Homo sapiens: one gene and its partner. The protein of the gene in region 1 purifies or fractionates together with the protein of each later gene. This does not show direct contact. Each region holds a gene or a part of one and is shown on either strand. Other genes may lie near its edges.

Region 1 (3,810 bases):
ACTAAATACTTCACTTCCATCCTCAATATATCACATTCTCCCCTTTCACAAGCCCAGATGCTCAGTGCCAGGCCCTCCCTCTGGACCACAGAGGTCAGCCCATGAAGCTCTAGGCTCTATGCCACAGCCCTGCCTGCCATCAAGAACCAGAGTAAAACCTTCTACACTCTATCTCCATGACCTCAATGATTTTAACCTTTAGCTCCCACAAATAAGTGAGAACATGTGAAGTTTGTCTTTCTGTGCCTGGCTTATTTCACTTAGCATAAGGACCTCCACTTCCATCCATGTTGTAGAAGGATGGTTACCAGAGGATGGGAAGAGTAGTGGGGGTGGGAAATGGTGGTGGAGGGGGGAAGTGGGCATGGTTAATGGGTACACAAAATACTTAGAAAGAAGACCTAGTATTCCCTAGCACAACAGGGTGACTATAGTCAAAATAATTTAATTGCACATTTTAAAATAACTAAAAGAGTATAATTGGATTGTACATAACACAAAGGATAAATGCTTGAGGTGAGGTGATGAACACCCCATTTATCCTGATGTGATTATTATATATTACATGCCTGTATCAAAATATATCATATAATCCATAAATATATACACTTACTATGTACCCACAAAAATTTACTAAAACAAATCAGAGTAAGAAAAGTGGATGGAACTCTCTATAATAAATTCCATGCTTGGTCTTGGCCAAGCATTATATAGTGCCTTAGACCAACAGTGGTATCCCTGAGGAATGGCATTCTCAATGTCTCCCGGATATTCTGAAACCTAAGGAGAAAACTGCTCAAGAAAGGAATCAGGAGACAGGTGAAGGAAACTCAGAGACACTCTCCATTACCTGCGTCCTCACTGACAGTGAAAGCCGTGTTGCCCAGGGACACAGTCGAGGCATCGTTGGGACCACTAATGAGCACCTTGGCTGTCGCCACCCTTCCAATGCGGGCATTGTCAGAGGCATCTGCCAAGGCAATCTCAAACTCTTCTTCCTCTTCATACTCGCTGTCATCAATAAGCATGACATCACAGGTGGACATGGTCACACCAGGCCCGAATATCACACGACTCGCGGCAGACATCCCTCTAGATTTAAAATCAGAGCCTGATTCTAGAGCATAGAGGCTACTTCCCATAGCTGACTTAGGGACTGTGTAGCAAATTGCAGATACAATGCTGCTTGCATCTCCTGAAATACAAATGGCAAAAAACCAAAGCATTTGAATGAGTGCTTCTCAGATTTTAAAACCTCTGGTAAGTTAATGAGCTTGGTCCCTCCCAAACAGTCCATCACTATTTCTGTTCAAACTCTGACATAAAACCTTCCTGAATTGCAGTTTCTTTGAGCCTGTGGTATAAACCACTTGAGGATTTAATATACCCCAGATACTTCATCAAACAACTCAAAATGGATTTCCTATTCTGTGAATTTTGTGCTCTGTTAATTTGCAAGACTCATTGCCCACCATCTAAGACCACAGCAGGTGGAAAGATATGACACATATTTGGTACTTTAAGTAGGAAAGTAATTGTGTCCTGAAGGTAGTGCTATAAGCACAGTTCACTGCCTTTCTGAATAAACTTCTATACTTTAATTCCCAGAAAGAAACAGGCTTATTTAAAAAGAGAAAGACAAAACAAAATAAAATCTGCCACTGTATACAAATGACTTTACTTATTAGGGCTGCCACTTCCCTTGGTGACAGCCTGTTCTGGGCCTGGCTTGGTGGCCCAGAGCAATCAATGAGGCTTGCTTGTTTTCCAAGTGGCATTACCAAGGGTTTTTGCTATCTACAGTATTTGTTACACTAATACCCAGTCAGCAGATTCAAGAAAGAAACCCAAAATCATCATTTACAGTCTTGTTGTGCCTTTGAATGGGGGTTCAATTTCCATGTGTTTTAAAGTCTCAATCTTGCACAATCAAAATTCCATATGATGTTTATTTTTATTTCCAACTCCTCAAGAATTGCCCTTTTATCAACATGCACAATTACTATGTATCAGTCAAAAATAAAACAAAAAAAGAATTGCCCTTTATTTCTTACACATAGTTTATTTCTCATCTGAGCTCTACATATGACTGTCACATAGGGAAATTTTCAGCATATTTCTGTCTTCCAAGAATAAGATGGAAAGCCAGTCCTTATGAACTGTAACTTCCCTCCTTGACCAAGGTTACTAAATATTTTATGGATTGGGTGATTGATTAAGAATACTGATTCATGAATAATTTAGAAGGCTAAATATAACCAGTCTTCTAGTCCAATTTAAGAGTAAATGGGAGCTCTAACAACTTGAACTAAGAAAAGAGGCTTTCTGATGGTAGTCACTATGGATAGAATCATCATCAGGGTTGTTGTGGGAACCAAATGAGTTAATAAGTGGAAAGTACACATGTGAGTTAAGATAATGCATGAGATGAGTGCTTAGCACATAATAGGAACTCAATAAATGTTAGCAATTATTATAGCTCTTTGTCACCTGTGGAACCAACAGACCTTTTCTTTCAATAGGTGCAAACAGAAAACCAGCGCTCTCGTTAACCCAGTAGATCTTCTTGTCAAACTCTAATGTGGGTTCATCCTCGGTATCGTTGATAATGACCTTCGCCTGGGTGAATTCCCCTAACAGGGCATAAGCTGGCATGCTGAGCTCCACAGTGAAACTCTCAACATTTTCAAACACGTCATCATCGTTGATGACAATGGTGCAGGACTTGGTGTCCTCTCGCTCATCAAACTGGACCTGTCACAAAGGAACCAACAAGAAGTTAAGCTGTGCCTCAGCTTCCCCTGCTCTGCTTCCCCAGGGCATCATAGGAAAAGAGCATCCAAGTCCAGTGGGCAGAGCACTGACTGAAATAGCTGGTTCTCCCAGCCCTGGTTCCCTGCTGCATCACCTGGAACACCCAGCCACCTCTTCCCATTCTTAACCTGTACAGGAGGGCTGCTTTATTGTATAAGGACATGAAGGAGCAAAATCTCTCCTACCATTGGTGACTGGAGAAAAACATGTAGTAACTCTTTATAGCCTGTCTTATTATCTCACTTGGGGCAGCAACAGTCATCATTTGATGACTCAGTTCCCTTTCTGGAAGAACTCTGGCCTTGGAGTATGAAGTTCTGTTCTCAGATCTGGTTCTGTTACTTCCAAGCTGTATTAGGTTATGAAGCTTTACAAACATCAGATTCCTCATCAACTAAAGAAAAGTCATAATATTCCTACCTCATACGCTTCTTGGGAGGACTAAAGGAGGTCTTGTATATGAAGGTGTTAAGTGTATTTTAAAGTACCAAACAAACATAAGATATTATCATTAGTATCACCATATTACTTACACAATTAAAATTGACATAGAATTCCAGTGTACTGAATAATGGAATTTAAATTCATAGAAAATTACATTATAAACAAGGTAGACTAATTTTAACTTGATATTTTGACTACACCCTTTGCCATTAAAATGTGAATCAATTTAGCCCAGTACAAAACAGAGAAATTATTTTATATGTACACAATTGTGAACTTATAGGGACTTATTCTGGTTTTACTTTGTTTTTTTTTTTTTTTAAAAAGAAAGAAATTAAAAATCTTCAAGTGAAACCACGACTATGGACTTGCCCAAAACTGAAACTGCAGGAAATGAGCCTGGACTATACTTTGTGTAAACGGAGATAACTGAAATATGTACAAAAAACAGACATAAATGTCTGGGGACACACAAATCTGCAAAAATTTTACTCAAACAGAAAATTATTAGTATATATCTAATCAACTAATAACACTTTTATTAAGCTTCAT
Region 2 (4,608 bases), on another chromosome or scaffold:
ACCCGCCAGACTCCTGGGCAGTTGGAGTCCCTTCAAGAACCCTGGGAGCACTGTAATGTAACTCCTTTAGCTCCCACTCCGCACCCTCAGATGTCGCACAGCCTGGGTGCTGGGATCAACACGGGAAGATTCACTAGATTGACTCTGTGCGGATGAACGGGCACCCTTTCCTTCCCCTCCTCCATCTCCACTTATCTACCCTTTGTGCAGTTCTTAGACCGAGGTTTATACTGAAATAGCTTCTAAACATCAAATATTAAAAGTGGATAAAAAATCCCCGCGGGGTATGTGTGTGTTTGTGTTTGTTATGTGTGTGTTCATCCGCGCTTGTGCAAAATCTCCTAACGTCACAGTTCCCAATCGGGACAAGCGCGCCGAGAAATCCTGGATCTTCCCAGGGATTCCCTCTACGCTCCCTCCTCTTCTTCAATAACCCCAAAGAGGTAGGTTTGAGCTTTCGCAAACCACCACTGCAGCGATGGAAGCAGACAAATCTGTTGAGATTTTGTCTTTCCCCTTTCGTTCCCAGCCCTCTTAGGCAAGCAGTTCTGAGCACAGGGTTTTCTTCAATTCCCCTGCATCCACACTGCAACCGGGTGCAAGTCTTTCCTAGGTTATAGACAGCCCGCCTCCCCACGAGACCTTCTGCGGACTGGCTGCCCCTGGCCTCGGCCTGGGTGGGTGGGTGGTGCTCGCGCCGCCCCTACTTTCCCCTGGGGCCCTGGAGAGCCGCGCGCTGGGTGTGTGTGTGTGTGCGCGCGCGGGTTTGGTGGGGAAATCTCCTTCAGTGGAAGCTGCTGAGTGTCGTTGGCGGAAAGTATCCTGGAGCCCAGCAAAAGCCTCCAAAGCACTAGAGCTTCCCTAAAGAAAAGCAGAATAAAAGAAAGACAAGAAGGGAAGCCCGTTCCTCTAAAGCCCGGGTTTCCAATAGTCCCGGATCCTCCTGGAGTTGGGCGAAGGCGCAGTTGGCAGCAGCCGCTGCTGGCACCCGGACTTGGAAAGGCGGTGTTCCCCCTTTTCGGGAGGAGGGAGGCAGGGACTTGCAGGCAAGAGTTGCACCTGGTCTAGGAACCTGCAGAGAAAAGAACTCTGGGGTAAGTAGTGTTCTGGCACTGGCACGGAAAGGGGTAAAGGGTGGGGGGCATGAGAGGGACGAAATGGAGAGGGCAGGGAATGAATTATGCAAAAAAATCTCCAATATTTCGCAGCGGAGGGAGAGCACAGCACAGCACTCCCAGGATGAGTCCTGCCTGGGTCTCCCGCGCCGAACCCGCAGCACGAAGTTCTTTTTAAGAAGAGAAACTCGAAAATCCTGGAGGGTAACAGAGGCAGCCAGGGCGGGGCGGAGTGCGGAGGCGGCTGCCAGGGACTGGGGCCGAGGCGGCGGCCAAGGTGGCCTGAAGCTGTGACACCCAGCCTCCTCCTCCTCCTCCTCATGGCCGCGCTCAGCCTCACCTCCCCGCCCGGGCCTCCTGCCTCCGCCCCCGGGTGCCGGGCTGCGGAGCTGACGCTGGGACGCCCGGCGGCGGCGAGGACGCTCACCTGGCCAAGCCTCCTTCTCCTCCTCCCCCTCCCGCCCCCACCTGTCCTCCTCCTCTCTGAGTTGGGAAGCGTAGGGATCCGTAGGCGAGGAAATAACGACCCCTGCAGTTGTATTGCGGAAAATCTCGACAGCGGCGCTAGTTGCGGGCGATGGAAGCCAGGCAACTGGGGGTTCTGGGGAGTTCAGGAAAATAGCAGAGGAGCAGGAAGGGCGCGCGCGACCTGGAGAGTCTGTGTGCCCCCACCGCGCCCCAGTCCCCGGGGCCCAGCCCTTCCCCTCGGCGCCCTGGACGCACTGCCGGAACCCGGCTGAGAGGCTGCAGGCTGCGCGCGGACCTGGGGAGCAGGGAGGGTCGGCGGAGGCTGCCGGCGGCTGGCGGTTTCGGGCAATAATCCCTGCCTCTCTTTCTCTGTGTGTCTGCTGTGTCTGCTCCTTCCCCGCCCCCCGGAAGCAGGAGAAGAACTGCCCCGGAGCGCAGCAGCCACCCTCCGACCATGCCCCGGTGAGGGGGGCGGACTTCGAGGGCAACTTGCCGCGGACTGCCTGGGCTTAGCCAGCGAGCTACGCGCTCCCGGGAGCCCGGAATTGCACGGCGCAGCCCGGCGGGGGGCTATCGTCTATGTCTTCTTGGGGCGCCAGACGAATCGGGGTCTCGTTTTTGCTGGAAGAGCCCAGTGTTGGTGGCTTCAGGTGGCTGCTGCCGCCGCCGCCGCCGCCGCCGCTGCTAGTGCGGTTTCCGCCGCTGGTGCGAAGAGAAGAGACACGCGAGCGGGGAGACCTCCAAGGCAGCGAGGCATCGGACATGTGTCAGCACATCTGGGGCGCACATCCGTCGAGCCCGAGGGGAGATTTGCCGGAACAATTCAAACTGCGATATTGATCTTGGGGGTGACTGTCCCTGGCCGGCTGTCGGGTGGGAGTGCGAGTGTGCACTCGCTCGGAAGTGTGTGCGAGTGTGTATGTGTGTGTGCCGTGTCGGGCTCCCCCCTTCCCCCCGTTTTCCCGTCGAGTGATGCACTTGGAATGAGAATCAGAGGATGGAAATAGTCTGGGAGGTGCTTTTTCTTCTTCAAGCCAATTTCATCGTCTGCATATCAGGTACGGGACGCGCCGAAGTCACTGGCTGATTTGGATTATGTTGTGATGTCTGGGGTGTATGGGGTTTTATTGTATATAGCCGCGGGGCAGAGAGAGGGGTGGCGAGACCCTTTGAGTTCTGCGGGTTTGCCGCCTTCAGAATCAAAAATCTTCTCAGCCCAAGGGTGTGTGAATGTGTGTGTTTTGCGGGGGGGGGTGGTTAGGATCTGTGTGCAGTCCTAGAAGGGTGAAGGAAAAAGTGGTGGGGGATGAGAAAGAAGAGGCAGATGGGTGTTGATTTTCAACTGCTTTCCTGGCTGAGAACTCTGGCGCCGAAATCCGAGCCTTGGCAACAACCACCCCCATCCCCTGGCTTTCAAAGTTCCCAGACTCGGTGGTTCCTGGCTGGCAAAATGGACGCGGGGCCCTGCCCGGGTATCTAACCACTTTCAAGAGACTGCGGGAGGATGCGGGACTGGAGAGTACCAGCAGGGATCAGAGATATGTCCTCCATGCCTTACCCAAACACATCAGGACTGATTGTGATGCTTTGAAACCTGCTGACACACCCTCCTCTACCCCCCCAATTTTCTTGTTAAAGCACTACAGTGTCACAAATACCACTTTCTTTACATCACGGTGTTTTTTAATTCCCAGTAGCAAGGATGTGCTGGCTCAGACCTCTCAGTCTACTTGGGCCTGTCTGTGCTTTTAAGAGCAAACGGGATTTCAGGGTGTTGAGGTGAAAGAGGTTGGGCTTGTGGACACCTGTGCCTGAGTGTGTTAGGACGAGTTCTGGTTTTTGAGCACTGTCTTTGTTGATGCAGGGAATTGGGGTTGGGAGGAAGCTGGGAGGGAAAGGGGAAAGCCCCTGGACCAGCAGTATTCCCCAGTTCAGTGGCTCCTCCCATTGAAGGCACCCACCCCATTTCCCTTCACACCTGCCACTTAAGCACCCAAGGAAAAGCCCATTTGTAGTGCTCCCTTCTGCCTGCATTCTTCTGCAGAAGTGGGGACTCGGCCAACTTCCCATGAAGTCATCAGAAGAGGAGAGCAGGATATTGCCCCTTTGAGCAGCCACATTTAAGCAGCACTGGGGTGGAGAGACATGTTTCCTGCCTCTTCCTTCAGCCCTGTCAATCCCCTCCCTTTAAGCCAGACCTGATTCTGGATAGGAGAAAACAACCCTAGTTCTGCCCTCACCCTGGACTCTGTTCCAAATCCCAGTCTGGCTTCCAATTTTCTCCTCATAGGGAAGGAATGGGACTCTTATCCGAAATCATTCTGTGTGGGGCTTGGCTACCCTATTAAGAAATTTGTCTCTGTGATACATCAGTGAGATGTGTTGTGTACCTGGCAGACAAGAAAATGTGCCCTGGGGTCACCCCAACTCCTCTAGTGGGACTTCTATTATTCCATTCTGCATCTAGGAGTGAAAATTCTCAAGTGACTTGTAAAGGTTTATATCAGTCATATGTCCAGATATGAAGTGGGTGGCATCTCACAAGGCCATATTTTACATCTTTCTCTTCTACATGTCTATTTCAAACTCTCTCTCTTGTTCCAGAATATTTGACTAGTTATAAAATAGCCTTTCCTTACTTCTCCCCAGTGTCATTAATAATTTTCAAATCAGACAAGCCATCTGAGTACCTTTAAGATTTATAAAGGGTTAACATTGATTAAGGCTCTGGATTTCCTCCAGCATCCTCTCTGTCCCCAGCCCTTACCCTGAATTTCGCCAGGCAATCACCGAGGGGAACAGGCTGAGAAAGGGTCTGATCTTAGCCTCCAAAAAAAGCATTAGTGGGATACCTGTCACAGCTATATTTGATTTGGTGTATCAGCAACTAAATTATTCAAATGGAAGCATTAGGAGGGGGATTTCCAACTCAGGAGGAGTGCTATGGAGTACATGGCCTTTCATATGTATTTACTAAATAATCATTATTGCTATGTAATGAGAGGATAAAAGTGTAAGCAAAATT

Evidence for each region.
Region 2: the proteins of FRAS1 (region 1) and CA10 purify together in Homo sapiens (co-immunoprecipitation; one large-scale study listed by IntAct). This does not show direct contact.

What each region holds. Positions count from the first base shown.
Region 1 is NC_000004.12:78,476,759-78,480,568, reverse strand, and holds part of FRAS1 (extracellular matrix organizing protein FRAS1 isoform 1 precursor), read right to left. Parts: intron 2,755-3,810; coding exon 2,508-2,754; intron 1,196-2,507; coding exon 851-1,195; intron 1-850. UniProt on the Homo sapiens protein: Involved in extracellular matrix organization. Required for the regulation of epidermal-basement membrane adhesion responsible for proper organogenesis during embryonic development. Involved in brain organization and function.
Region 2 is NC_000017.11:52,155,759-52,160,366, reverse strand, and holds the start of CA10 (carbonic anhydrase-related protein 10 precursor), read left to right. Parts: upstream 1-1,652; 5' UTR 1,653-2,580; coding exon 2,581-2,641; intron 2,642-4,608. UniProt on the Homo sapiens protein: Does not have a catalytic activity.